Regions from separate parts of the Homo sapiens genome. Here region 2 is linked to region 1. Evidence: fine-mapped expression QTL. Tissue or cell type: sun-exposed skin. Region 1 holds a variant in brackets; the other region holds the start of a gene. All regions are shown on one strand. Distances are from middle to middle.

The links. PIP is the estimated chance that this variant, and not a neighbour inherited with it, causes the effect.
Region 2: IRX1 starts here. The variant in region 1 is the best candidate, but not a certain one, in a credible set for the expression of IRX1 in sun-exposed skin (GTEx, PIP 0.89).

What each region holds. Positions count from the first base shown.
Region 1 is chr5:3,335,738-3,338,421 of GRCh38, forward strand. No RefSeq gene overlaps it. Among named protein-coding and RNA genes, the nearest start is that of LINC02162, 120 kb to the right of the region's middle. The variant T/G (reference allele first, on the strand shown) is at 1,343.
Region 2 is chr5:3,594,237-3,596,920 of GRCh38, forward strand. It overlaps IRX1 (iroquois homeobox 1), which reads left to right and starts at 1,596. Exons shown (of 4, transcript NM_024337.4): 1 at 1,596-2,145. The coding sequence starts at 1,870. RefSeq lists a silencer at 1,299-1,593.

The sequences.
Region 1 (2,684 bases):
CTTTCACGGACACCATTTCTCTGTAAAGAATTTAAAATAGTTTCTAAAGCACTTTTCCATGTCTTCTCTATTTTTATCCTTTCAGGAAACTTGCAAAGCCATAATATTATTTTACTTTTTTGGTGTAAAATGGAGCCCAAAAGGCTGTAAGGTGTGGTCATCCTGCAGCAGCTGGGGCATGGAGCACAGGGGAGCTGGCCTTCACACTGTGGGGTCTGCATTTGCTGTGGCAGACAAGCTCGTGGAGGTAACACCGCGCAAGGACAGTGAGCTGGAGAGAGGAGCCTGAGATGCTTGGGGTAAAGGTGCTTTCACCTTTGGAGGCAGGTTCCTTCCATCCGAGCAGAGGGCCCTGGACAGCCCTTCGTGAAACCTAGCAGTGAGAAGGTGTGTCTAGACTTGCTTCCATCCACACAGTGCCCTGGTGTCCCTTAAACTTTCCCATCACTCAGGGCCTTGGGCAGCAGCTGCACGGAGCGGGACCCTCAGAGACACTGTTGGATGGTCCTTTAAGATGGCAGGTGTTCTATTCCATGCACGTTTTGTAGATGAGAAACTAAAAACCGATGAAGTGACTTGCCTAACTTAAGCCACCCAGCTAATACATTGTAAAAGCAACATTTGAATCCAGATGGGAGAACCTATGTTCTGCAGAGAGCTTGAAAGGGTGAAAGGAGGAAGAACTCTTGCTTCCCTAGGGAGCCCGGGGAGGGAGACAGAGCCAGGAGTTAAGAAACTGTCCATGCATGAGAACTCGAGACTCTCACAAAGCTGCAAGCTGTGCACTATGACACCCATTTGATAGAGAGGGAAACTGAGGCTCAGAGGTTCAAGGACGGAGACCGGTATTGATCCCAGCTCTGACAGCAATGCTCCACGCTGCCTCCACTGCACATAAAGAGAAATCTCCTTGGCGTTGGGACCGCTGAACCCCACGATAGCAGCTGGTCCCCGGATCTGGATGTCTGGCCCCACAGAGAACCCGTTGAAGGCAGCATTGGAATCATGATGAGGCCGATACCATGGACGACCCCAGGAGGTGCATGTGGTGGGAAGTGGGTGGGCACGACCCCCAGGCCACCCATGCTGTCTTGACACTGGAGCTGCTGCCCTGGCCTCTGACCGGCTGGCCAGCCTCCGTGGCGCCTCCCCACCAAGCACTGGCTTCCGTGGCCTGAAGATCCCAGTGCAAATGAATCAGAAACACATGGCTGACTTTTCCCTGGAATTACACGTGATTTGACAAATGGTTAGAAGTCTCTGGCAAAATACATTTGGGATTATTTTATTGTCTAAAAGTTTGAAAAATAAGTTTGAGATGTTCCAAAAGTCTGAACACGGC[T/G]TTCCTTACTCATCATGCTGTTGAACAAGGAGTAAATAACTGCCGGTGTGACACCCCAGAGAAGCCCTTCCTGATGCAGTCGACGGGGGTGAGAACGTCGCGGGAAATATTCCCTCACTAACCCCCACTTTGGGCTACACAGCGGCCTTGGAGAGGACCACACTCTACAGGAAAAACATCAGGCTTGCAAAGATGTTTACAATAGCAGAGGCATGGAGTTGGTAGAAGAGAAAGATCTCCAAGCAAAGAATGGGTTTTCCCTGAGAAGGTCGCATCCCATGCAGACAACCCATTTCGCCTCACCAGGAAAGCTGAACTCAGACCCCTGTGAGTTGTGTTCATAGCGCTTTACGTCCATCTCCTTAAAACTGTGGTGGTGGCTTACGTCTGTCATCCCCGCACTTTGGGAAGCTGAGGCGGGCAGATGATGAGATCAAGAGTTTGAGACCATCCTGGCCAACACGGTGAAACCCCATCTCTACTAAAAATACAAAAATTAGCTGGGCGTGGTGGAGCGTGCCTGCAGTCCCAGCTACTTGGGAGGCTGAAGCAGGAGAATCACTTGAACCCGGGAGGCAGAGCTTGCAGTGAGCCGAGATCGTGCCATTGCCCTCCAGCCTGGTGACAGAGCGAGACTCCGTCTCAGAAAAACAAAAACAAAAACAAACTGTGGCATCTTCAAGAAGATGGCATTTTATCCAATTCCCCTTTAATGAGAATGTGAGCTTAAGTTAGGCTAACTTTTGTCTCTCTGTTGTCCCTAATCGGACTAAGAAAAGCCACGTGATCTTGAGCAGAACAAGGAACATTTCAGCCCCCCGGCCTGTAACAGGGAAGGTGAGTGGCTGGGGGTGGGAGGCGGATGCCCTTTCTTCATTCCTGCCCAGCTCTGGTGCTCCTGGCTGGGGGCTTCCTCTGAGGCTCTGTTCCCTGGGCAGTCAGGGCTTGGGCATGGGGCCTTTCCTCTTCTTGTCTTACAACTGAGTCACAGAGACCCCTCTGGAGGGGGTCACACCCCAAATCAAGGAAGTGCTGATAAGGCTGGGACAGCTTGAAGGAACCATGAGAGGGCTGAGCGGGGAGGCTGGATTCAGGGTTCTGCCCCATTGATCATCTTTGATGGTGTGGGACAGGCAGAAGAGGAGGGAAGGCGGTAGGCAGGGGACACCTGGATCCCTTCCATGTACAGCAGTGAGGGTGTCCTGTGGGTGGAGGGTGGGGCAGCCTGTGCACAGAAAAACCGTCCCCAGCCTGGAACTGAGCCCCAGGTGGAGACCACCGTGGCCCTAGGCCCTCTTCCCTCTACCTCCCGCCTCGTTTCTCACCGGGACCCTGCAGTGTC
Region 2 (2,684 bases), 260 kb after region 1:
TTAGTAATTACTACCATCACGGGCATTATTGTTGCTAATTATAGGCGATGTCTCAGTGTCTGTCCTCAGGCCCGGAAAACCGGAGCCCCTCCTGATGCTGCTGAAGTCCCTGGGCCTCGAGGCTCCGTGAAGAGAGGGAAGCGAGGCAGGGGGTGAAGGGACCGCCTGGCCGGTGTCCAGGATACGGGTGGCTCAAACCACCAGCAGAACAGCATGCCGACTCTGGCCCGATGGCCGCCTTCATCCCGTAGCCCCAACCCGGCCTAAAGCCGAGAAGACGCCAGAGTGCGCTGCTGAAATTCCCGCGGAGTCCGGTGTGCTGGAGAGCCGCAGCGGGGTGAACTCCCGGCCCCGTCTCTGCGTAGGAGGTGGTTCGCAAAGTGGCCCCGGGAGCCGGGACTGGTACCCGGTTCCCCACGGCACCGTCCGGAGCTCTCCAGCCACGAGGCGCAGAAGTGGCCTGCCAGCGCCTTCCCAGGCTCAGGGAGGCGAGGAGGCCCGTGCACTTGGCATCTTCTCCCGGGAGCCGCACGGCCAGGGCCGCGGCGAAACGGAGCCCATCTCAAGTGCGCCGCGCCTGGCCGCGTCCTGTAGCCCGACGAGGCTGAGGATGGAGAGGGGAGACGCAGGGAGAAGAGGGACGCGGGACTTGGACCCAAGAGGCCGCTCCGTTGCCGGTCTGGCGGCGGCGCCGACTCGGGTTCGCGCGTTCCACACAAGTTTCCTGTCTGCCTCTGCACACCTGGTGGACAAACCGGGCGTCCAGGCCACACCGTCTTCCCCCTTCGCGGGGGCGCGGGGGATGTTTCCCTCCGGCTGCCAGGGGGCTTTCTGGGTGAAGAGAAAGCCCCTCCCCCCGCGTCTCCCCCACCCCTCCCTCCGAGAACCCGCGGCGCCGACTGCGCCTGCTTCCCCCGAGCTGGCGACTTCTCCGCGGGATTTGCCCTCGCTCAAAGTTTGCACAATTGAAAGAGCCCGCAGAGCTCGGCCGCTCCCCGCTTCCCCAAGGGCGGCGAGGCCGGTCATTGGCAGACGATCGGTTACTACCCAGTAGGGGCCCACGGGAACCCGCATCTGGAGTCGGGGGTGTCACGCCACGCCGGTTCAGTGGCTCGCGGAGAGCGTCCGGGTGCACTTCTGCCAAAGATGTCCCCTGGAGGCCCCGGCCGCGCGGGACTCGGGGGAGAGGCCGCTCCCCCCTCGCTGTCACCAGCGTCCAGGCCGCCGGCCCCTTCCCCGCTGCCCAAACAGTAGAAAAGCAGGCGCCAAGTTGTTTTTGTTAAAAAGGGGACACACCTCGGCCGCGAAACTGCAAACCCGGTGTCAGACAGCTGTAAACCCGTGTCGACAGGTTGTCAGACAGCTGCGGGGGCTGGTCGGGAAGGAGCCCACGGCCTCCGGGCCCACACCCCGCCGCCCCGACGCGCGCGCCCACCGCGAGAGTAGCTGGCCGGGCCGGCACGGGGCACCACGTGCTCGCGGGAGGGGCGGGAGCGGCCGGCGAGGGCGGGCGGGAGGCAGGGAGGGGGCGGGAGGGGAGCCAGGGGCGGGGCCTGCGCTCAAGGGGATGCCAATCAAAGCATCAACTTCAAATTGTGTCTGAAAGCCCCGCCGCCGAGCGGAGGGCGGCCGCCGCAGTCGGCGCGCGATTGCGGATCCGGGCGCAGCCGGGAGCCGGGCGCCTGCGAGCACCGGGCAGAGGAGCCGCGACCGGCCTCCATCTCCCGGCCCGCCCGAGCGCGCCCGGCCGGCCGCCCGCTCCTCCCTAGACCCCTCGCGGCGCCCCCTGCAACCCCCTCCGGCCGGCCTCCGCCTCCCTCCCCGCGCCTTTAATACTCGCCCGCTGCGGCGGTCGCCGAGTCCGCGGACATGTCCTTCCCGCAGCTGGGCTACCCGCAGTACCTGAGCGCCGCGGGGCCGGGCGCCTACGGCGGCGAGCGCCCGGGGGTGCTGGCCGCGGCCGCTGCGGCGGCTGCCGCCGCCTCGTCGGGCCGACCGGGGGCCGCGGAGCTGGGCGGCGGGGCAGGCGCGGCTGCAGTCACCTCGGTGCTGGGCATGTACGCGGCGGCGGGGCCGTACGCGGGCGCGCCCAACTACAGCGCCTTCCTGCCCTACGCCGCGGATCTCAGCCTCTTCTCGCAGATGGTGAGTGCGCCCGGCCTCCCCCGCTTCTCCTCTGTCTCACCCGCGCCAGGGCAAGGGTGGCGGGTCGCCCGGGAGGGAGAGACTACGGGTGGACCTGGTCCGGAAGAGGAACTAGAAAGGTCCGGGGGCAGGTTCCCGGTGGCCGAGGCCGCGGCCCCCGGGGACGCAAGAGGGCTGGGAGGCCGGGCGGGTGACGGCTGGGCCATCTCGGCCTGGGAAAGCGGAAGGCCCGGGCCAGGGAGCGGGTAGCGAGTGAATTCAGAGAGGCCGCAGAAGCAGGCCCGTGGAGCGGTGCCCGCGCTGGAGGTCGGGGGCAAACTCGCCTGGCTCGGCCAGGGCGCCCGGGCAGGCCCACGGGGTTCCTGCAGGTCGGCCCGGCGTAGCGTAGCAGGACTTCCCTTCCTGGCCGCGGGTTCCACTCGCGCGGCCTCTTTAGTTTTCGAACCGAGTCTGGAAAACTTGGTTTTCTCCCTCTTTAGCAGCTCCGAGATAGTTGTATCCGAGTTTGCCAGACAGACCCCTTCTAAGCCTGGTAGAGT